4 linked regions of the Homo sapiens genome follow. The protein of the gene in region 1 purifies or fractionates together with the protein of each later gene. This does not show direct contact. Each region holds a gene or a part of one and is shown on either strand. Other genes may lie near its edges. The genes, in order: CRAMP1, AKAP11, ARHGEF9 and PPP4R3A.

Region 1 (6,126 bases):
CCACACTCCAGGCGTGCCTGCAAGAGCCCTGGTCAGGGTCGCCAGACTCTGAGATGTCCTCTTCCAGGTTCTGAAGCTGACCTAAAACCTAATGGTCTCCACGACACCCTCTGGGAGTCACTCATACTGTCCCCTTCTCTGCCGGGACTCCCACCCTCAGTGCCTGCAAGGCTCAGCGTCCTCCTGCATGCTCTGACCAGCGCTGTCTCTCTTGAAGATTCTCCCTTTCCCCTCCTACAAATATTTGAGAGAAATACAACTAGAACTCCACTGTTTGTATAAAAGCGTATGCCCTCTTCATGAAATACCAGCAGATTTTCTAATTGTATCCTGTAGGTATTGCAAGATATCCCAACTAAACTACAAACTCCTGGAAATGTCTCCTTTTTTCAGTGTTTCTAACGTGGTTCTTTAGTGTTAAAAACGCTGTTGTGCCGGGCGCAGTGGCTCACGCCTGAAATCCTAGCACTTTGGGAGGCCGAGGCAGGCGGATCACCTGAGCTCAGGAGTTCGAGACCAGCCTGGGCCATACGGTAAAACCCCATCTCTACTAAAATAAAAAAAATTAGTCGGGTGTAGCAGCATGCGCCTGTAGTCCCAGCTCCTCAGGAGGCTGAGACAGGAGAATTGCTTGAACCTGTGAGGCGGAGATTGCAGTGAGTTGAGATCGCAGCACTGCACTCAAGCCCAGGCGACAGAATGAGACTCCGTCTCAAAAACAAAACAAAAACAAAAAACAAAACCCCGCTGTTGTTACTTATGTGACAAAGAGCTTCTACACACCACTTTATACAACGATGTTAATTTTCACATTTCTGACTTTGCAATCATGAATCATCTCCCTGTTATATCCTTACATAAGCCACAATAAGATACAAAAATGAAAATCGAAAAGTCTACCTCATTAGACAACTTCACAACAACAGACACCACAGAAACTAGTTTTAATACCAAAAGTATACAGGTATTTGAAAAGCAGCTCAGCCTTCAAACCAATGTTCAAATTTTGCCTTACCTACTTTATCTTTTTTGGTTTTGTTTTGTTTTTGAAACAGGGTCTTGTTGTGTCACCCAGGCTGGAGTGCAATGTCCACAGCTCACTGCAGCCTCCAACCAGCAGCCTCAGGTGATCCTCCCACCTCAGCCTCCTGAGTAGCTAGGACTACAGGTACAATCTCTTATGAGACATCTTTTTGAAACATCTAGAAACTACAAACAGTCCACAGATTATACAAAATATAAAGAGTAAATTGTGCACAGTCGTTTACCGATTCCTACACACAAACGACTGTCACTTCAGACTACATTACCCTATTCTGGAGATGGTGCATTTCCCCATCCTTGATGGAACTGAAGTTCTTCGGGGTGAGAGGGGGACCAAAATAAGCAGAGGCTCTCTGTCCCCACCCCCAGTGTTCTCTCATCCCATCTGCCCCAGCAGAGCACCAGCATTCCCGGACTTCTACTCACCCCACAGGTAGGCTCCCCACCCCGCCAGCCTGTGCAGCCTCCTCCTGCAGTCCTGTAATCTTGAAGCTGCATGCATTTTTCATGGCAGAAACACCAGGTGCCTGTAAAACACCTTGTGACTTAAGGCAGGTGTTTATTTTTATATTTATTTATTTATTTAGAGACTAAGTCTCACCCTTGTTGCCCAGGCTGGAGTGCAATGGCGCAATCTTGGCTCACTGCAACCTCCGCCTCCCGGGTTCAAGCGATTCTGAGGCAGGTGTTTATTTTATCCAAAAGATGGACTAGTTTGCCCAGGGCTAGCTGGATCATGAACTGGCCAAATAGGGAAAGGTATCAGGACTCTGTCTCCTGACTTATGTCTTTCAGATGGTTTCTGCGGCTCTAAGCCGAAATCTCCAGTGCGTCCCAGGGTCACGTGGGTGGTGTATTAGAGCTGCAGGAATGTCTGTTTTGGGATTTCTGGTCTGCAGCTTACCTTGAGTTTAGGTTGAGCATGTGACTTAAACAATCTACTTCAGGTTCTGCACTCATTTAAAAGCAAAATTACAGACATGCAAGATGCCTGGCAAACAGGCACTAAATCCCAGCTACCATCGCTTTATCAATGCAAGAAGATTTAAATTTGAAACTGAACTAGAAAAAAAAGCATTTTTCATTGAAGTCAATAAGAGTGTCTTCTTCAGAGAAAGAAAACACACTTGCATGCAGAAAAGCCAAACAAGCAGACTTTCCTTTTCTCCACAAGTCCTTTCTTCCAAATTCACTGTAAGAGTCTCAGGCCCACTGAGATTGAAACTGGCCAGGGCAGTAAGTAATCAACCAAAGGAACTGCCAGTGATTGAGCTAAGTATTCCTTAGGCATAATAGAAGTTACATCATTTCCAAGTGAAAAATTGAAACATGAAGTATTGATCGTTTCCTCCCTGACAGATGCTCACCACTCCAGATGCAGATTTCTCCAGAATGTAAGAGGATTCTCCTCTGAGCATCTTTCTGGAAGGTGAGCTAAAGACTGTTGCGGGGCAACTGCCACCACCTGGCCTTCTTTTCTGACGGGTAATGGAAGCAACGACTGAGCAGAGGTCTCTCCAAAGACTGGTGTCAGAGGATGTCCTGGGCACAGTGAAGTGCCTCCCAAAGCACTGAGGAACCTGAAAGCAGAGAGCAGCGGACAGGCAGCCTTCCTTCCCGGGAAGCTCCAAGGCAGACAGTGGCCGAGAAGTTCTGTGATGCAAAGGAGACCCACTTCCTACTCCTCTCCTAAAAGCCACCATCACAGCTTAGCTTATTATTTGCTTAAAGATATATTTGCTTGTGGCCAGGAGCGGTGGCTCATGCCTGTAATCCCAGCACTTTGGGGGGCTGAGGCGGGAGGATCACAAGGTCAGGAGATCGAGACCATCCTGGCTAACACGGTGAAACCCCGTCTCAACTAAAAATACCAAAAAAAAAAAAAAATTAGCTGGGTGTGGTGGCAGGCGCCTGTAGTCCCAGCCACCTGGGAGGCTGAGGCAAGAGAATGGTGTGAACCTGGGAGGCAGAGCTTGCAATGAGCTGAGATCGCACCACTGCACTCCAGCCTGGGTGACAGAGTGAGACTCAGTCTCAAAAAAAAAAAAAAGATATATTTGCTTGCTAAAGTGGGATAATGGATATGTCACGAGGAGCACAAATTCTAATAAATTTGCATTTTATTAATATTAAAACTTAATGAAAAGTCCCACGCTTCTCCAAGCCACACAATGGGACAAGAAGCAAAGAAAGAAGTGCCAGCAACCTAAGTGTGAGCCAAGCTCAGGAAACCTTCTGCACCTTAGCAAGCCACTCTCAACTATACAAACAAAAGCAAGCCTCCCCTCGTCCCAACTGCCAAAAATTGACCTGATCACTAACGTCTCAGCAGCACTTCACTTATACATACAAGTAGCCACGTACACGTCTGAGAGTGCTTTCACACCAATGCACTATTTCATTTTAGCAGCCGCACTTCAACGGGGTGAAGTAGCTGCTCTCATTCCTTGCCTCACAGGTGAGGACACCCGACAGAAAAGCATCTCCAAGAGGGTGAAGGGGCAGAGCAAGGTTGGAGGCCAGGGACATGGGGGACGAATGCCGGCTGGATTCAAGGTCCAGGGCTTCTGAACCATGAACAACAAACCTTTGAAGGAACCATGGAGCTTATATGAGCTTAGACATACCTGTAACTAGCAATAAAAAACTAGTAACAAGCAAAGCCACTCATGTTTTCCAAATTGATCAGCAACTTTCACATCAAAATAAATTCATATGAGGCAAGTTTTAAATTCTGAAACATGCTAAGTTACCTTCTATTTACATCTTTAAATAAGTATACTTATATCAGAATTCTTTACCAATGAGTAAGGCCATGATTCCGGAGGCCAGCCTTCTTCGGTTGAGAATGCGGCAGGAGAAGTGGGCTTAATGGAACACATGTGGCACAGATCTCCAAAGCAGGTTCTCCATTAGTTCGTAATATATTTCCTTGTCAAAACTACCAGGACCATTCACTAAATGTAAACGAGCATTTCCCAAGGAAGGAAGTGAAAGATTTTTTTTTCACGTGAAACTCACTGGAAGCTGATGTTATATTTGCTATTTATACAAAGTGCTGCGAACATGGTCGGAAACAAAAAGAATCAGAGTCATTCACCTGCGTAAGGAAAAGCACAAGACTGAAATAGAAATAAGAGCAGACAACAATGAAGCACTGGCACATGGAGAACGAAACTAACATGCCGTTTTCTTACTATCTTGGTAAGAGACCCCAGCTAAGTAGCAACATTCTCCATCACCTCAGAATACAAGGGCGAACACTACAAGCTGCTGCTTGTTCATGTCAATCGTTTTCACCACTCTTTCCTTTCTTTGGCACAGAAGTAAACCCCAGTTGCAACTCAAAGGGCCCCATCTCTATGCCCTTCCTACTCTCAACCCAGGAGCACTTGAAGGAGAGGACAATGGGTCCAAGTCAGACCCCAAGGATCCTTTCTCCGCTTCTTACCCATCTTCCCCCCAATGAGTTTCAAAAGCCTGCTCCCTTGGTGCATTTCCACCGCCTGATGTCTGGGAAAGAGATACAGCAGGTATTTTTTTCTCTTCCCGTTTCCGAACTATTGTCCGCTGTTTGAAACACAAAACCATAGAAAACCATCAGTGATCCTTTGGAAAGGAAACAGCTTTAAGGGATCTCTTCGACTCCCCCCCAAAAAAGGATACTCACTGCCTCTTCAAAGAGTTTAAATATAGAAAGTCGCAGCCTCTTCGAAGGAGAGAGGGGACACATGCCCCATAAGTGCCACCCAAATTGAGAGCCTCAGTGTAGGCCGCGGGATGGGTGAGCTAGGGTGGAGCCCGGCTGGGGCGAGGGGTTCCTCTCCCCCGCGGCACACCCCGGAGAGGGGCTGGGGTCTCCCAAGGGGACGGGCCGCCCTACCTTTTCCGCGGGGCCCCGAGCCACCGGCGTTGCCGCTCCCCACAGCGCTCGGAGGATCCTTCCTGGGCCTCTTGCTCTGCGGCCGCACGCTGGACCGGAGGAAGTGGTGCTGGTCCTGGGGGCTGCCCTGCGGCGGGGACGGCGCCTGCGGCGCGCCGGGGGGCGCGGGGGGGCCGTCGGCGCCGGCCCGGGGGGTCTTCTCGTCCCTCTTTGTGCCGCTGCTCTCCTCGGCCGCGTCTGCGCCGCCGGCCCCTTCTCCTTCCAGGGACTCCTCATCGGCCGCCCGCTTGCCCAGCTTCTTGAGCCCGTCCTCCCCGCTGCCGCCGTCGCCCAACTTCACTGTCATCCTGCGGCCGGGAGAGGGGAGGCGGCCGGTGAGGCGGGCGCAGGCCGGGAAGTTTAGCGGCCCCGACGCGCTCTCAACATGGCCGCCGTTGTTTGTTCCAAATCCCCTCTCGGCGGCTCGGCCCGGCCCGCCCGAGCCCGCCCGAGCCCGCCGCGGCCCCTGCCGCCCCCACGCCGCCGCCCCCGGCCCTGCCCACCAGCCCGGGACCCTCCCGGGCCTCCCCGGACGCCCCCTGGCCGAGGCTCGCGTCCAGACGCCCGGGCCGGCGGCGGGAGGGCGCGACAGCTCGGCGGACCCTGCCCGGCCCCGGCCCCGGCCCCGGCCCCGGGGTCTATGGGAGCCCCGGCGCGGGCGCGGGTCTGGGCACGGTTGCGGGTCCGGGCCGCTGCCCCGCCCACAGCCACCTACCCGGCGGGGCCGCGGCTCATGGCCTGGCCCTGCGCGCCGGCCTCGCTCCCTGCGCCGCCTCGGCCGGCCGGGCCGCAGCCCCAGCCCTAGCCCCTCGTCCCACCCCCTCCCCGCCCCCCGAAAGGCGCGGGGCTCCCGGGCCCCGCGCACCTGCCCCACGCGCCGGCCCCCAGAGCTGGCCCTGGAGGAGGACAGAGGAGGCCGGATCCACCCCGGGACGGGAGAAGCGCGGGCTCGCCTGCCCGCACGGGGAACTCCATGGTGGCCCAATGCCGCCGGCCCGCCTGCTTATTTTAAAACACACATAAAGAATAATCAGCTCCGGGTCTCTGGGAATCTTCTTCCCAGGGTGGGAAATGTGAGCTGCTGCGGGGATTTACTAGTTAAAAATGCTTTTGCAACAAAGGAGCCTGTTGCATGGAACAGGTTGGAACCACCCGGGAAA
Region 2 (6,126 bases), on another chromosome or scaffold:
TTAAAAGTTGTGTTTATTGTTGCTGAATAAGTAGTTTTGAAGTCAGTAGCCATTCACACTTAGTACTTTGTCAACTAGACCCATGTTATTCCTTTCAATACCAGTGGCTAGTTGGGCTCAAACATACCTTATAAGTAGATCTCAATCTGGAATGCAGTTGAAAAATCAATAATTTTTCTCTGTGACTGTTTGGGAAAACAAAAGTGACAGAACAAATATTCTTGGATTAATTTTGTAAAAAGTCATTAGGTAAGTGGCCCTATTTTCTATTTGGTGATGTTGCTTTTGCCACCAAATGCCTGTCTGCATTCACGTCATTGATGAAATTTCTCTTCACCGTACAGCTCGTTCACTTCAGTAAATCTATAGTTGCTTATTATGAGTAAGGCCTTTGGGGAATGCAGAGATGAGTAAGGCATGGCGATGGAATGAAATTCACTGTTGTATCCCAATCACTGTTACTTAGACGCTTGGTGAATGTATGTGTTGAACGTTGGTAGTACTTACAGTCCAGTGCAGGGCATAGACATGTAGACATTTAACTGTTACATAAGGCACTGTAGTCTAAAGTGCTAAAATAGGGTAAGTGGTGATTTTGCTCCCCAAGGAAATGTTTGGTAATATTTGGAGACAGTTTTGGTTACTGCAACTGAGTGCTACTGGCATCTAGTGGGTAGAGGCCAAGGAAGCTGCTAAGTGTCCTACCATGCATACACAGCCTCCTACAACAAAGACTTATCTGACCCAAAATGTTAGTAATGCTGAGATTGAGAAACTCTGTAGCGGTAAGAACATATATATTGTGAATGCAGGAATGAGGTTGAGGATTAAAAAGGAAAAAGGCAGAAACTATAAAGAAGCAAATATCTTAATAGATATTAAGACATACTAAAATCATTTTATACGATTGACTGTTGTTTTGAAAAACAAAATAGTATCTGATAGCTGTAGTAGTTTTAGATTTTGTAAGTCAAATAACAGGTCTGTACCCAAGAAAGGAACTTAGCTTCCTTATTTGCAAAAAGGGGGATAACATCACTTTTATTCTGCTGTTCACCTATTAGGTATTATTCTGTTTTATTTTTCTAGTGTTTGTGTTAGGGTTTACAAGATAACTTATTACAGGTTTTCTTCAAATAACATCACTTCATGTTTAATGTAGAAATCTATGACAGTCTTTTTTTGTCTCCATCTCCCCTGCCACATTTTTTATCCTATTTTGTCATACATTTTATCAATATGTCTGTCTTAAACCCTCTAATTAATTGTTACTATTTTTAAACAGTTATATTTTAACTGTTTAAAAGGGATTGAAAAATGAAGAATAACTTCTGTTACCCTCATATTTACCATTTCAGATGTTCTTTATTCCTTCGTGTAAGATTCAGATTTCCATCTGGTATTGTTTTACTTTGCCTGAAGAATTTCTTTCCATAGTTACTCTAGTGGTGGTCAACTGGTGGTGAATTTTCACGGCCCTTATTCATGTGAATAAATTTATTTTGCCTTAATTTTTGAAATACATTTTCATTGAGTATATCTGGGTTGATGCTTTTTTTTTTTTCTTCTTCTTAGTACTTTGAAGATAGTGCTCCATTGTCTTGTTTTCCGGTTCATATAGATGTGAAGTCTGTTGTCCTTGGTTCCTCTGTATATAATGTGTACTTTTTTTCTGGTCAATTAATATTTTTTCTTTATCACTGGTTTTCAGCCATTTGGTTATGATTTGCCTTGGCTTTCTTTATGTTTATTCTTAGGGTTTGCTGAGCTTCCTTGGTACTGTCAGTTTACGGTTTTCATCAAATTTGGGAAGTTCTCTGCTATTTTGTCTTCAAATTTTTTTTTCTTCTGCACCCACTTCCCCAGTGCACGCACGTGCACACCCACACACACACACACACACTCTCTCTCTCTCACTCACTCACTCGCTTACTCACTATGTCTCTTCGTGGAACTCCAGTTATTCACCTTTTATGGTGCTTAAAAAGTCACTTACACTCTACGTTTGTTTTTAAGTTTTGTCTCTCCATGTTTCATTTTGGATAGCTTCTATTACATTGTCTACAAGTTCACTGAGCTTTTCTTCTCTAGTTTAATCTGTTAATTGTATCCAGTATGGTTTTCGTTTCAGTATATTTAATTTTCATCTCTAAAAGTTCAATTTTGGTGTCTTTTGTATCTTCTCCTTCTCTCCTTATGGTGATGTTTTCCTCTCACTTCTTGAGTATATGGAACATATTTGTACTATAGTTTTACAATCCTTTTCTGTTCCTGCCATCATCACTGTCATTTCTAGGTCTTCATTTATTGCCTTTTTTTCTCTTGGTTATGGTTCATATTTTTCTCTTCCTTTGCATGCTTGGTAATTTTTATTGTATGCCAGCCATTGAGTTTATACTGTTGCTTGCTTGATTTATTATATTACTGAAGTGTGTTGGATTTAGTTGGGGTGCACAGTTACTTGGAATCTGTTGGGTTGTTTCAGGGCTTGCTTTTAGAATTTATTAGTGTGGGTCCAGAACAGTTTTTAACGTAGTGCTGAATTATTGTCTCTACTAAGGCTGCTTCTACTAAGGCTGCTACTTCTTCTGAGGAGTCTATCATTACCTGATACATTACAAGGTTTTTCTATTCTGGTGGAATATATTATGGTTTATCTCTAGGGCTCTCACTTACTTTCAGCTCTCCCTCCAGCTTAATACCCTGTAAATTCTAGCCATCTTGGTCTCTCCAAACTGATCTGTGTTTAAAACTCAGTGAAACCACCAGACTGCTTGGCTTTCCTGTCCCTGTATTGTGACCTGGAAGTAGCTGGCAGCCAGTGTTTCCCTTCTCTCAGGGATCACAATCCCGTGTTCCCTGTTGTCTGATGTTTAAAACCAATGTTTCATATATATTCTGTCCTGTTTTCTTGTAGTTATATTCAACAGAATATTAATTTTTAACACTTGGCCATTTGGCATTTGGTCAAAATGTGTATTTGGAGTGTTTACTCTAAATGTGATCTCAGATACTATAAAGTAGAAATTATTGGAAACACAAATGTATTTTCACAAACTCATTAAATGTAGACATACTCATTTAAATATTTGAAGGCATACTTTGCTCTTTATTCTGTTTTATATTTTTCAGCCTACATCATGCTTTGAACTTTGTTCTTTAAATATGTTACTTTTTATTTATTAGTTCAGCAGATGTTTGAATGCCTACTATGTAAAAATACATAAAACACTTTTGTCCTCATGGAACTTACAACAGGAGGGAAGTATGCAAACAGTGGCACCAGAGGATTAAATTATAAACCACTTAGAGAGCACAAAGGAGGTGGTTACTATTTGGGCAAGGAGGGATAAAGGAGAGATATGAGCCAAGCCTATTTTAGGGAGGGAAGTTTTTGAACTGGTGCGTGAATAGTAAGTAGCAGTTCAGCTGGTGGAAGAGAGAGGGTAGATTTGAGAGAAGTTTAGGAGAATGACAAGTCAGGATTTGGCAATTTACTAGGCGAGGTAGTCTGTAGGAATTGAGGGGAAGACCAGTTTCCAGCTTGGCCTACTGGTTGGGTTTGGTTTAATGGCTCTTACTGAGATAGAGAATACAGGAGGAGATCGTTTAGGGAGAAAGTTTTATTTACCTTTTGAACATACAAATTTTGGAGTAACTGGGATATTTAGTTGGAAGTGTCTAATAGGAAATTAGATATACAGAACTGAAGAATAAATTAGGGAGTTATTTGCATAGTTAAAACCAGAGGTAAGGATAAAATGTCCTTGAAAAACTAAATAAAATGAGACAAGAGGATAAGGATGAAGACTAAGAAATATTAGTATTTGAGTAACAAGTTATGAAATAATTTAGGAAAGGAAACTTACATACAGAGAGACAAGTTTTTCTCAACCAGAAATTACATGTGGCAGTTGTTAAAAGTACAGATTCCTATGTTCCATGTAGACCTGTTGAATTTGGATCTTCTGGTGGGGGAGTTGTGTGTGTTAGAAATAAGCTGATGTGTACAGGTACTGAGGTTTGAGAACTAGTGCAGTAGGAAGAGAGTCAAGATATGGCAATATTGTTGACAGGCGCTTCACAGACTGGCATAGTTAATTCTCCTGATACAAAAAAGGTCAAGTAATAGGTGATGTCAACTTGAACATTTCTTAGGTCAGAGGAGATAAGGAAAGACTTGGAGAATATATATTTTTTAATTATAAAAGAATTTATGTTCATTCAGAAAAGTACAAAACTCAACATACATAGACACAAAATGAAACACCCATGATTGTATCTACCCAGATGAAACCAATGTCTGTACTCATCTAGTGTATGTCTTCTTTTATATTACATATATAGATACACACATGTAGTTATACAGATTTTTCACAAAATGGGATAATGCTAATATGCCAGAACCTGTCTTATTTTACTTAATGATCTACCATCTTCTCATATTGTAGATAGATGACATTTTATAAAATTTAAAAGTCCCACTTGCATGGGTGACCACTGGCATCAGTTTAGTGTACCTCCTTCAAGTCATTTCCTGTGGATGCACAAATATTTACATATGTGTGTCAGAGTTGTGTCTGTATATAATTTTTTCTTTCTTTTTTTTTTTTTTTTGAGACTCTGTGGCCCAGGTTGGAGTGCAGTGGTACAATCTTGGCTCACTGCAACCTCCGTCTCTTGGGTTCAAGCAATTCTTGTGCCTCAGCCTCCCGAGTGGCCGGGATTACAGGCATATACCACCACACCCAGCTAATTTTTGTATTTTTAGTAGAGTCTGGGTTTTGCCATGTTGCCCAGGCTGTTCTTGAACTCCTGGCCTCAAGTGATCTTCCTGCCTTGGCCTCCCAAAGTGCTGGGAGCCACTGTGCTAGGCCAGTCTTTTTTTTTTTTTTTTTTTTTTAAATTACAAGTGAGAGCATCCTATTAACACCATTCTGCAACTTGCTCTTTCACGCCAGTATGGATCACTCTAACTCATTATTTCCAATAGCTGAGTAATAATCATGTGAATTTATTTGAATTGATGAACTTCTAGATTATTTTCAGTTTTTTCATTTTATTTCAGTGAATAGTCTTTCACATATCTTTGTGAATTTTGTGCAAGTATATATGTAGGATAAATTTTAAGAAGTGAAATAGCAGGACTAAAGGATATGTGTATTTATTTAAAGTGCCCTATATCTCTGTTCTCTGTATTCTTTATAATTGTTTCTGTAATTGCTTTCATTTGTTTACTTTTGCATTCTGTGATTTTTCTTAAAATCTTCTTGGTTTTCCATTGTTTTTAGCAATGTCTGTTCTGCTTTTTTGTTATTTCTAAGGGGATTTCATTTGTTTAGTGATAGTTTTCTGTGTGTTTCCTGAGCTATAGTGGTTCACTTCGTAGTTGTTTGCCTTGTCTGCCTCTTTCTTGTCTCTCATCTGCTTTTTTCCAAGCCATGTAGGTTCACTTTAATTTCTTTGACTATAGATAACGCACTTAGTTATTCTTTGCTTAGGACTCTTGTTTCTTCATCCAGAATAGGGCACAAAGCAGTAAAGCACTAAATGAAAAGTTTATCATAATACAAATGTATTTTAGGTGAATATACTGTATTTTTGTTCTTCTTGTGAAATCTGTCAAAAACGATGTGCTCTCTAATTATATAAGATGCTAAAGAAATCCTGCTCTAGTAGCTGTTATCCTTTCTTCCCCCATCAATCTTTGCATCATTTCCAAAGATGATTTTTTTCTTTGCTTTACAAAAGTATGTCATATCATCTCATATTGGATTCACTTTTATGTTGCACAGATATTCTCTAATAGATTTCTTTCTTCCTGAGACAGTATTTTATTTATGTTTAAATGAAAAAGTGGTGGAGTAAGGCAGTAAGTTGTTTTTCTTCCATGAGTGAAACAGAGTGTAAATATAGAATTAAACTGTTTCTCTTTCATTAATTTCAAACAATGATTTGAATTCTGAGATAATGTGAGTCTCAGGGGCATGATTATATTTGTCTGGATTTTTTCTTTTTATGTATATTGTATGTTGTTTGTTTTTCAGTGTTCCTTCGCAGATCCCATACTGAATTCCATTTGCTTTATTATTCAATCTTGAATAAGGGTGTTTTATCTGGATCTGC
Region 3 (6,126 bases), on another chromosome or scaffold:
ACAAAAAATCAAGATAGAGTTGTTATATAAGGGTTGAAAAACAAGCAAAATAGCACATAAAAAGAATAATATACCATGATCAGGACAGACTTATCCCAATGTAATTTACCACATTGACAGATTAAAGGAGAAAAATTACATGATCGTTTCAATAATGCTGAATAAGCATTTGAGAAAATAAATTTATGACAAAGACATCAGCAAACTAGAAATAGAAAGACACTACCACAATGTAATAAAGGACACCCATGAAAAACGTTAAGCTAATTACTTGGTAAAATATTGAATGCTTGCCCCTAAGATCAAAACAAGACAAAGATGCCTGTTCTCACCATTTCTAGTTAACACCGTACTGTATATCCCGGCCAGTGAAATAAGATAAAAAAGGAAATAGACAGAATATAGACTGAAAAAAGAAGAAATTAAACTCTTTTTTTCAGAGATGACATAATTGTATATGCATAAAATCCTAAGAAATCTACAAAAAAAATACTGGAACCAATTAGTGAATTTGGTTATGTGTCAGGACACAAAGTCAATGTACAAAAATCAACCGTATTCCTGTGTAATAGTAATAGACTATAGGAAATTGACATTTTAAAATACCACTTACAATGGCAGCCGAAAAAATTTTAAATACTTAGAAATCAACTTTTAGGAGAGGATGTCAGTAAGATGGCAGAGTAGGAAATATCGCCTTCCTTTCTTCAGCAAACAACAACAATTTGGTAGCTATCCATGAACAAAAAATAATTCTGGAAAAGCTTAGGGGTCCACTTAAGAAGCCACAGCAATATAGTGAAAGAAAAAGTCAGAAAACAAATACACAAAACGAGTAGGAAAAACAGTTTCATTTTGCTTGCATCACCCCGTCCCCATAGCTGGTACTGCTCATTATGAAACAGCAACTTGGATCTTGGATCTTGTGTCCTACATACAGGGAGGAGACAGGAGTGTACAACCAGCTTCCCCAGCTTTATGGGACACTGCCCTAATGACCAGCTTCAGTTTCATCCCACCCAGATCTCTGAAAAGACAGATATAGCCTAGATGTCTGGAAACAGCAGAGAGCAAAGAATAGGGATTGGTTATATCAGTATCAGCAAAGTAGCAGGAGTCGCAGTGATCTGCCGTGGCCTCTTTGGCACAGGGCCCCAGTAGGCCTCTCTGTCAAGGACCTCAATAGCCCTCATAGCCACTGGGTACCTCCTGTAGATTTTACCTCTCAAGATTCTTCAGTGTTCACAGTCACAGACCCCAGAAGCTTTTTCAGCTTTTCCTGCTGAGAAAACCAACTGCTAGTATAGTATCAGCAGACGCCCTGCAGCTTATACTGCTAAGGGTCCATGGGTTGTTTTTTCTTCCTTTTGAGTTTTAGGAGAAAAAACAAACAAACAAACAACAACAACAACAACAACAACAACAAAAAACATGCCTGAGCCATGTCCCTTCTTCTTCTCTACTTCCTGGAGCCACCCAGAGCTGCCCAACTGCTGCTGTGGTTACTATAGCCCAGTGGGAAGGGGTGATGTAGGCCAACAGCTTTCACATTCTCCAGATCCCTGATCCACCAGAGCTTTCCCTCCCCCATGCCCAGAGCTGCCTGAGCTACTCCTACCACAGGTGCCTTGGCAAAGGGACTCAGCACAGGAGCCTTTGCATTCTCTAGGTACTTAAGCAAGTACTACCTCCTTGGATGCTCTGGCCCAGTGACCCAGCACAGCTACCATGCATGTACCTGCAAACAGCCCTAGGGTCCCAAACTAGGGATTCTAGTCTCACTACCACATGTTACCAAAGCTGACCCACGCAGACAGGCTATCACACAAATTCTTCTAAAGCACACATGGAATACTGTCCAGAATAGACCACATGCTATACCACAAAATAAGTCTTAGCAAATTTAAGAAGATCAACATCATATCAAGTATCTTTTCTGGTCATGATGATATAAAACTACAAGTCAGTAACAGGAAGAAAACTAGAACATTCTTAAATCAGTAGAAATTAAACAACATATCCCTGAATAACAAATGGGTCAAAGAAAAAATCAAAAGGGAAATTAAAAAATATCTTGAGACAAATGAAATTGAAAGCACAACATACCAAATCCTTTGGGATGCAGCAAAAAAAGTTCTAAGAGGGGCGTTGATAGCATTAAAAAAAATCTGAAATAAACAATCTGATATTCCACCTCAAGGAACTAGAAAAAGAAGAACAAAGTAAACTCAAAGATAGCAGAAGGAAAAAAATAAAAGATCAAAGCAGATATAAATCAGAGAACAGAAAAACTTAGGGAAAAAAATCAACAAAACTAAGACTTGGTTTTTAGAGAAAAAGAATATAGGTAAATAAAATTAGAAATGAACATGAAGATATTACAAAAGATGTCTCAGAGATGAAAAGGATTACAAGGGACTATTATGAACAATTATATGACAACAACTTGGAAACACCAGAGGAAATGAATATATTCCTAGAAATATAAAACCTACCAAGATTGAATCAAGAAGAAATAGAGAGCCTGAACATTAACAAATAAAGAGATTGAAGTAGTCATTTAAAATCTCCTAACAACAAAAGATCATAGGACCAGATGGCTTCACAGCTGAATTCTACCAAATACCCAGATAAGAATTAGTAGCAATCCCTCTTAAACTCTTCAATAAATAAATAAATAAATAAATAAATAAATAAATAAATAAAAGAACTAAAGGGAATACTCCCAAATGATTCTAAAGTCAGACAGAAATACAAGAAAAGGGCCAGGCGCTGTGGCTCACGCCTATAATCCTAGCACTTTGGGAGGCCGAGGTGGGCAGATCACAAGGTCAGGAGATCGAGACCATCCTGGCTAACATGGTGAAACCCCGTCTCTAATAAAAATACAAAAAAATTAGCCAGGCGTGGTGGCGGGCGCCTGTAGTCCCAGCTACTTGGGAGGCCGAGGCAGGAGAATGGCGTGAACCCAGGAGGTGGAGCTTGCAGTGAGCCGACATTGCGCCACTGCACTCCAGCCTGGGTGACAGAGCGAGACTCTGTCAAAAAAAAAAAAGAAGAAAAGAAAACTACAAGCCAGTATCACTAATGATCATAGGTATAAAGATTCTCAATAAAATAGTAGCTAACCCAATTCAGTAACATATCAAAAAGATCATACATCATGACCAAGTGGGATTTATCCCTGGGATGCAAGTATGGCTTAACAAATCCAAATCAATTATTATGATACATTACATTAGCAAAAGGAATAATTTAAAAACCACACGGTTATTTCAATAGATGTGGAAAAAGCTTTCACAAAGTTCAACATCCTTTCAGGATAAAATATCTTCACAAATTAGGTATTAATATTAAAAATTTCCTCAGCATAAGAAAGGCCATTTATGAGATGCCCACAGGTAACATCATAATCAATGGTGAAAAATGGAAAGCTTTTCCTCTAAGATCTGGTATAAGACAAGGATGCCCACCCTTGCCAATTTTATTCAAAATAGTACTAGAAATACTAACCATGGCAATCAGATAAGAAAAATAAATAAAATGCATCCAAATTGGATCAGAAGTAAACTAGCCCTATTTGGAGATAAGATGATTATATATGTAGAAAGCCCAAAAGACTCCCTCCAAAAATTAAAAAGAAAAAAACCTGTTAGAAAAAGTGAATTCAGTAAAGATGCAGGATACAAAAAAAAAATCAGTGTACAAAAATCAGTTGCACTCTTTATACCTATAATGATGTATCAAAAAAAGAAATTTTAAAAAATCATATTTATGATACCATCAAAAAGAATGAAATACTTAAGGAATACATTTATTCAAGAAGGTGAAAGATCTGTGCACAGAAAACCAAAACACCCTGATGAAAGAAACTGAAGAAGACACAAAGAAATAGAAAGATTTCCCATGTGCAAGGATTGGAAGAACCAATATTGTTAAAATGTCCCTACTACTCAAAGTGATATAGAGATTCAACACAACCCCTATCTAAATTCCAATGGCATTTTTCATGGAAATAGACAAAAACATATATAAAATTTCTATGGAACCAAACTAGACCCTTGATAGCCAAAGCAACTCTGAGAAATAAAAATAAATCTGGAGGCATCACACTCTTTGATTTCAAACAATATTAGAAAACTATGGAAATCAAAACAGTATGGTACTAGCATAAAAACAGATATACCAATGTAATAGAATAGAGAGTCCAGAAATAAACCGAAGCAAATATAGTGAACTAATTTTTGACAAGAGCACCAACAGGACACAATGGGGAACGTATAGTCTCTTCAATAAATGTTGTTGGAAAAACTGGATATCTATATGCAAAAGAACAAAATTGGGCCCATATTTTAGACCATACACAAAAATCAACTCAAAATGCATAAGAGACTGAAACATAAGAGCTGAAATAATAAAACTACTAAAAGCACTACTGCTGTGCTTTTTTATATGACACCAAAAGCACAGGCAACAAAAGCAAAAAGAAACAAGTGGGACTGCATCAAATTAAAAAGCTGCTATGCAGAAAAAAAAAGTCAACAACATGCAAAGGTAGCCTATAGACTGAGTGAAAATATTTGCAAACTGTAAAGTGGTTAATATTCAAAATATACATAAAGTGGTTAATATATATAAAATATATAAAGTGGTTAATATTCAAAATATATAAGGAACTCACATCACTTCACAGCAAAAAAAAACAAATAAACAAATAAACTAATTAAGAAATGAGCAAAGAATTTGAATAGACATTCCTCCAAAAAAGACATAAAAATAGCCAACAGGTATACGATGATGCTCAACATCATTAATCATCAGGAAAATGCATATCAAAACCACAATGAGAAATAACCTAGCATCTATTAGGATGGGTATTATCAAAAAGATAAGACATAACAAGTGTTGACAAGGGTTTAGAGAAAAGGAGACCCTTGTACACTGTTAGTAGGAATATATATTGGTACAGCAGCCACTGTGGAAAATAATACCTTTAAGATGTTCCCAAAGAAATCAAAAATAGAATTATCAAATTATCCAGTAATCCCTCTTTTGAGTATATGCCCAAAGGAAATGCACTCACTACCTTGTAAAGATATCTGCACTCCCATGTTCATTGCAGTACTATTAACAATAGCCAAGATGTGGAAGCAAACAAAGTGTCCATTAATGGATAAATGGGTAAAGAAACTGTCGGGTGTATATGTATATGTAATATGTTGCCTATATTTTAATAAATTACCTCTATTTTTAATTTATTTATATATATATTACATATACATACAGAGACACAGAATAGAATATTATTCAGACTTTAAAAAGAAGGAGGGAAGGAGATTATGTCATTTGTCACAACATGGAGGAACCTAGAGGACATTATGCTACATGAAATAATCCAGTCACAGAAAGAAAACTACTGCATGATTTCACTTATATGTGGAATCAAAAGGAAAAAAAAAATGAATACATAGAAACAGATTAGGATGGTGGTGACCAGAGGTGAGGGGGTGGGAGAAAATGGGAAGATATAAGTCAAAGGGCACAAAGTTGTAGTTACACAGGAAAAGTCTAGAGATCTAACCTACAGCATGGGGACTAGAGTCAACATTATTGTATTATACACTGGAAATTTGCTAAGAGAGTAAATTTTAGATACTATTACCACAAAAAAGTAACTATGTGAGATGATATGTTAATCTGTTTGACTGTAGTCATCACTTCATCATTTATATCAAAACATCACATTGTACATCTTAAATTTATACCTTAAATATTTTTTAAAACAATCAAATTTTAAAAGGTCAAAATCATACAATGAAAACTAAAAAACAATCCTGGGAGAAATCACAAAAAAATCGAAATAAACAGTTAAATGTTCATGGATTTGAAGACTCATCATATCAATGTTCCCAAAACTGATCCACAGATTTAATGCAATCCCAACCAAAACACTGATAGGGTTTTTGTTTGCTTGTTTTTGGTAAAATTTGGCAAGATTATTCTTAAATTTATATAGAAATACAAATAACCTAAAATAGCTAAAATTGTTTTGAAAAAGAACTAAGTTGGAGGAGTTATGCTATCTGATTTAAAGACTTGCTATGAACCTATATTAATCAAGAAAGT
Region 4 (6,126 bases), on another chromosome or scaffold:
AAAAAGTGAGGGTAAGTAGAATTATTTTCATTTTCCTTGAAATAATTTGATCACATCTAAGACAACAAAAAGAACCTATTTAAAAATACTGTTTTAATAAGGTGACAGGTGATGGTCCTCTGGCCAGGTATTTATTTAGAAACCACCACTTACAAGTCAAACTGGTATTCCAAAGGGAGTAGTTAAAAACAAAAACAAGAAACATACAACTAATACAATTTCTCTTACTCTTCACTTTTCTTTTTATTATTCAAAAGTCAAATGTTTTTAAATCATCCATCCTCAATTTTGATTTAATGTACCGTCATTTCCCCAAGAAAAGAAATTTCAGAATCTCTTTGGAATACTAATTTCATGTTTCTAGATTTAACAAAACTGTTGAAGTTTTAAATTCCATTCTATTTCCCTGAATTCTCAAGACAGTTGCTGATGTAAATTTTAATATAAAATATTTAGTCACAAAATAGTATTGCTTTTGTATGCACATAGTTGTAAGATTACTTTGCTTTTGTCAATAAAAACTATACCATCTTTCATAAAACTCTAAACAAATTAAGAACTGTGATGTAGAACAAAAATTACACATGGTAAAACAGGTACCAGCACAACGTTAGGTTATATTACATCAAAAAAAGTTTTAATGGTCCCAAATATATATACTCAACAACTAAGCATACACTCAGGGGAGGAAAAAAAAAATCAAAAACAAAATAAAACAAAAAAATTATGACACAAATGACCACATCTAGAATTCCACTCAATCTTTAATCAAGTAGGGAGAAGTCCCCACTTAAAAAAAAAAATATCTGCAGTTTGAAGGGCAAAGGGAACAGTTAAAAAAGAGGAAAACTTTATACTCGCCCCTCCCCCACAGAGGTTTTCCAAACCTGTTGTAGCTTGACTAAAATGTTCAGAATGTATGATTTTAAAGGCAGGTCTCTTTATACAAAGAAACTGCTGGCATTCTTGACTAGTGAAGAATTATGGCAGAAAGGCCCATTCTTCTGAGTCTCAAACATGGTCCAAGAAAGCATATTCTGATTGTAGCAACTGACCAGTCAATCCAGAGTTCCACTTACAAAACCCCTGCCCTGTTGGCTTTTTGTTTCCATTTCCTTCCCTGAGAAAAGGGCAATGTGTGGTCCAAGCTGGAGAGCTCAAAGGCTTAAGTCTTTCCCCTAAATATATGATATCCCCTCCTCCTGCTCCATTGAATTGGCACTTGATGAGCAGAAGTCAAGTGTAAGAGGCTGATCTGTGTCAGTCATTCACAAGAGACCACTGCGCTTTGTTGTGGATTTTGTATGGGGGAGGGGTGGAGAACCAGTTTTTTTCAACAGGTACTGATCCTAGGCCGTTGCCATTATTATGAATCAAATTTTGCTTTCTTTGACAATGGTAACGTATCTTCCTTATCTTCATCCTCATCATCATCTTCATCATCATCAGGATAATCTACCAGACCCACGAGGCCTCCCTGTTAAGAAATAAGGATTATTTAAAGAACAGAAAATAAAACATATAAAAACACTGGTGTTTTCTGGCTGGAGAAAGAAAATAGATCCTACCAACATAGTAACGGTGGTTATTTCTGGGTGGTGGGACTGTGTTAAACTTCAATTCATTATGTTTACATATTTTCTAAATTTCCTGTAATAAACATGCATACTTTTTTACAATAAGGGAAAACTTTGAGTTAATTAGAATTAAAGCAAAAATTTTTTTTTTCCAAGTCGGAGTCTCGCTATGTCACCCAGGCTGGAGTGCAGTGGTGCGATCTCGGCTCACTGCAACCTCCACCTCCCAGGTTCAAGCAATTCTCCCTGCCTCAGCCTGCCGAGTAGCTGTGATTACAGGCGCCCGCCACCACGCCTGGGTAATTTTTGTATTTTTACTAGAGACAGGGTTTTGTCATGTTGGCCAGCCTGGTCTTGAACTCCTGACCTCAGGCGATCCACCTACCTTGGACTCCCAAAGTGCTGGGATTACAGGCATGAGCCACTGCACCCAAACTAAAGCAAAAAAATTTAAGTAGTTTATAATCCTAGCAAATTACCCAGGAGTTAGAAAATGAATGAAAAATGTTTGTTTCAAGACTTAATAGCATCTTAAAATTTTTTTAAACATAAAGTCTAAAATAGTATAAAAATGAGGCTGAGCATGGTGGCCTGTGCCTGTAATTCCAGCACTTTGGGAGGCTGAGGCGGAGGGATCACATGAGGACAGGAGTTTGAGACCAGCCTGGCCTGTTAATTAACATAGTGAAACCCTGTCTCTAATAAAATTACAAAAATTAGCCAGGTGTGGTGGTGCACATCTGTAATCCCAGCTACTTGGGAGGCTGAGGCACAAGAATCGCTTTAATCTGGAAGGTGGAGATTGCAGTGAGCTAAGATCACGCCACTGCACTCCAGCCTGGGTGACAGACTGAGACTCTGTCAAAAAAAAAAAAAAGTACCAAAATGAAAACTGCAGCAGATAAAGAGACCACCAGAAATGAGGGTAGACAGGCTTTTTCTATTTATTAGAGGTTAGGAAAGCAGTTCTACCCTGACTCTTCCTCATCATTTCATCTGGGTTTCCTTTTAGCCCTGCTCCTTCACCAGAAACCACTGCCGCTTGCTTTATTTATTTTTTGAGATGGAGTCTCACTCTGTCGCCCAGGCTGGAGTGCAGTGGCGCCATCTCAGCTCCCTGCAAGCTCCACCTCCCGGGATCACACCATTCGCCTGCCTCAGCCTCCTGAGTAGTTGAGACTACAGGCGCCCGCCACCACACGCGGCTAATGTTTTTGTATTTTTAGTAGAGACGGGGTTTCACCGTATTAGCCAGGATGGTCTCGGATCTCCTGACCTCGTGACCCACCCCCCTGGACCTCCCAAAGCACTGGGATTACGGGCGTAAGCCACCGCGCCTGGCTGCTGCTTGCTTTATTTCGATGCTAAGGGAAAAATTCACACTGCTCTGCTCTCAAGCCTGCCTCTTCATTTCAGCGTGTCTCAGATTCACTTCTTAGCCGTCAGGAGTCTCCAGCTCACGCCAGAAAAAAAAAAGACTGAATGGGCATTACGTGTCTGATTTAGATCAGTGATTCCCAAATGCCAGTCTTTTAACTGCTAGTCTGCTAGCCCAATAATCAATATATTATGTCTCAAAAGAAAAGGGTGGTTGGCATAAGGAGCCCCCAAAACTGGTTTTATTCTGAGATTGCATGTTTTCTACATTTTTTCTTAAGATTTTGTTCCTTTTTTTTTTTTTTTTTTTGAGATGGAGTCTCGCTGTTGCAGTAGCGATCTCAGCTCACTGCAAGCTCCGCCTCCCAGGTTCATGCCATTCTCCTGCCTCAGCCTCCAGAGTAGCTGGGACTACAGGCGCCCGCCACCACGCCTGGCTAATTTTTGTATTTTTAGTAGAAACGGGGTTTCACCACGTTAGCCAGGACGGTCTCGATCTCCTGACCTCGTGTCCTGCCCGCCTCAGCCTCCCAAAGTGCTGGGATTACAGGCGTGAGCCACCGTGCCCAGCCCTTGTTCATTTCTTATATGAAATGTTAGTGATAGTAGATGTTTAATTTTCTTAACAAACCTTAACTGGCAAAGTAAAGTTAGAAGTACCCAGATATTTAGATTATCATTTCCCCACAAAGGCTTTATCTGGGTATTAGTTAGGAACATTTATTCAAGAATAACTGAAAACCTTGAACATTTCTGTAAATGTTTTGACATACAAATTTGAAGTTTCAGTTCTAAAATCCAAAATACCCAAGTGAGAATTCACACTATATGCAGACTTGCATTGGTCATAAAAAAAACTTTCAGAAATTTCTCAACCTTTATATAAGTTCAAGCGGTGGGGGGGACTCATCCTCTAGTTCAGGGATGTTAAATCAGTTCTAGGTGGCAGTAACCAAAGGGAATCTTAGTCAAAATTATTGTTGAGAAAGCTTCAATTGGGAAAAAAGGGGGCAAAATGGGAGTCAAGAATGTACCTTTGTAGTAATAGCTGCCGTCTGAGATGTATTTTTAGGTACGGATCCAGGAGAGCCTGGAGATCCTGGGGATCCAGGTGATCCCGGAGAACCAGGCAGATTTGTTGTAGATGACTGGCTGGTGAGGTTAGTCTTCGTTCCACTGGACAGGGAAAGCTTGAAACTTGGGCTCTGCCGTCCAGAAAGGTTTGTTTTCAGAAGCACTTCCTTTTCCTCACTTTCTTTTACTAAAAATGAGAATACTGTCAATAGTCGTCCCCCATACTTCTTTTTTAAATTTCCCCAAATGAGGTAACACTAAAACACATTTAACTAGCTTACTACGCTGGGTAGAAACATTGAAGTTCAATTTATAAAAGAAGCTTACCAAAATACTAACCACAATTCCATTCATTGGATCTTACCCCAGAGAAGAATTGAAACCTTCAGAATCATATTTAGTATCCCTACCCTTCCTGAAATAGTATATTCCTTATTCAACTCAAATTAAGAAAACTTAAGTTTATGCCTACACAACACTGCTATTCAGTCACATCCCATAAAGCAATAGAGTCTTTAAACCGTATGCCATCACACCTTCCAAGCAAATAATCATTTTGTCAAGAAATAAGAATAAATCTAGAGTAAGAAAGCCTTAATTTTCTCTTGCCCATTTTTTTCCAACATACATTTCTTCCTTTCCATGAATTTACTTATTGGATCCATAATATCATCATCATTTTTAGTTTTGTCAGATGGAGACACTACAGCTTCTCCATCTTCCATGTCATCTTCATCTGTGTTAAACCACATCTCTTCTTCATCTTCTAGTGTTCTGGCATCTCTTCGATATCTGTGATTCCTCAAAATGGAACGCATACTATGAGTAGGGAAGAAAGAGTAAATACAATCATATATGGACTTAATTGTACTGTTACAGATGACTTATTAAACTTGTTAACATAGGGAATTAACATGAAATTTACAAATATTAAAGTATCAATGTAAATCCAGGTATTTAGATTAATGTACAAAATTTTAAATAATAATTTGTAACCTTAGTAACTTGTAAATTCAAAGCAAGTAATATAATCCTCTGATTTTATTTGGAACACATGAAGCCTCACTTCCACTGTTTGGTCTTTTTTTTTTTTTTTCCCTTATCTAGCCTGATACATGCCTGAGGTATTATACTAATAACCAGCCTAATCTTCAGGGAAACATTTATGTTGACCCTTACAGGAAGCTACAATTTCTATTTGCTATCTGCTGATTTCCCTGTTCCTTGTCAAGCCAAATAATATCAAATAAACAATAAAGCCACTACCATACGACTTGATGCTGAACGAATAGGTTTAAATATATGGTAATTTACCTGTCAAGTTTGGGATTATCTTGCCTTTCTCTTTGTTGTTCAAATCTCAGTTTTAATCCTTTAAATGTCTGTACATAATCTACATCTTCCAGTGCTTTCCAGTAATTTTCAATTACATGAGCAGTTAATGATTTTATATCTTCCTACAGAAAAGAATAGTAATGAAAAAATGATAGGAAAATGTCATTTTAGCAAGATGAGGCTTAATTTAATCAATTCATACCCACCAAAAATAGCTTAATTTAATAAAACTACATAATCTTAGAGATAACCAAACAATAAAAAATGGGAATAACGTACACTGGCTACTATAGTAGTCCCCAATTTATCTATGGGTCTTTTTTTTTTGAGATGGAGTTTTGCTCTTACTGCCCAGGCTGGAGTGCAATGGCATGATCTCGGCTCACTGCAACCTCTGCCTCCTGGATTTAAGCGATTCTCCTGGCTCAGCCTCCAGAGTAGCTGGGATTACATGCATGCACCACCACGCCTGGCTAATTTTGTATTTTTAGTAGAGATGGGGTGTCTCCGTGTTGGTCAGGCTGGTCTCGAACTCCCGACCTCAGGTGATCTGCCTGCCTCGGCCTCCCAAAGTGCTGGGATTACAGGTGCGAGCCACTGCACCCAGCTATCTATGGGTCTTTACAAAGTAAATGCCCAGGTCTTGCCCTAGGTGATTCTGATTCTGATGTGCGGGCTGGGTATGTGTATTTTTTAGAGATGGGGTCTCGTTCTGGCACCTAGGTTGAGATATAGTGGTATGATTATAGCTCACTGCAGGCTT

Evidence for each region.
Region 2: the proteins of CRAMP1 (region 1) and AKAP11 purify together in Homo sapiens (affinity purification with mass spectrometry; 2 studies listed by BioGRID and IntAct, with this or other methods). This does not show direct contact.
Region 3: the proteins of CRAMP1 (region 1) and ARHGEF9 purify together in Homo sapiens (co-immunoprecipitation; one large-scale study listed by IntAct). This does not show direct contact.
Region 4: the proteins of CRAMP1 (region 1) and PPP4R3A purify together in Homo sapiens (affinity purification with mass spectrometry; 2 studies listed by BioGRID and IntAct, with this or other methods). This does not show direct contact.

Annotation. Positions count from the first base shown.
Region 1 is NC_000016.10:1,613,787-1,619,912, reverse strand, and holds part of CRAMP1 (protein cramped-like), read right to left. Parts: intron 5,275-6,126; 5' UTR 5,274-5,274; coding exon 4,928-5,273; intron 1-4,927.
Region 2 is NC_000013.11:42,277,380-42,283,505, forward strand, and holds part of AKAP11 (A-kinase anchor protein 11), read left to right. Parts: intron 1-6,126. UniProt on the Homo sapiens protein: Binds to type II regulatory subunits of protein kinase A and anchors/targets them.
Region 3 is NC_000023.11:63,679,470-63,685,595, forward strand, and holds part of ARHGEF9 (rho guanine nucleotide exchange factor 9), read right to left. Parts: intron 1-6,126. UniProt on the Homo sapiens protein: Acts as a guanine nucleotide exchange factor (GEF) for CDC42. Promotes formation of GPHN clusters.
Region 4 is NC_000014.9:91,457,393-91,463,518, forward strand, and holds the end of PPP4R3A (serine/threonine-protein phosphatase 4 regulatory subunit 3A), read right to left. Parts: intron 5,486-6,126; coding exon 5,343-5,485; intron 4,848-5,342; coding exon 4,657-4,847; intron 4,216-4,656; coding exon 3,989-4,215; intron 1,478-3,988; coding exon 1,367-1,477; 3' UTR 116-1,366; downstream 1-115. UniProt on the Homo sapiens protein: Regulatory subunit of serine/threonine-protein phosphatase 4. May regulate the activity of PPP4C at centrosomal microtubule organizing centers.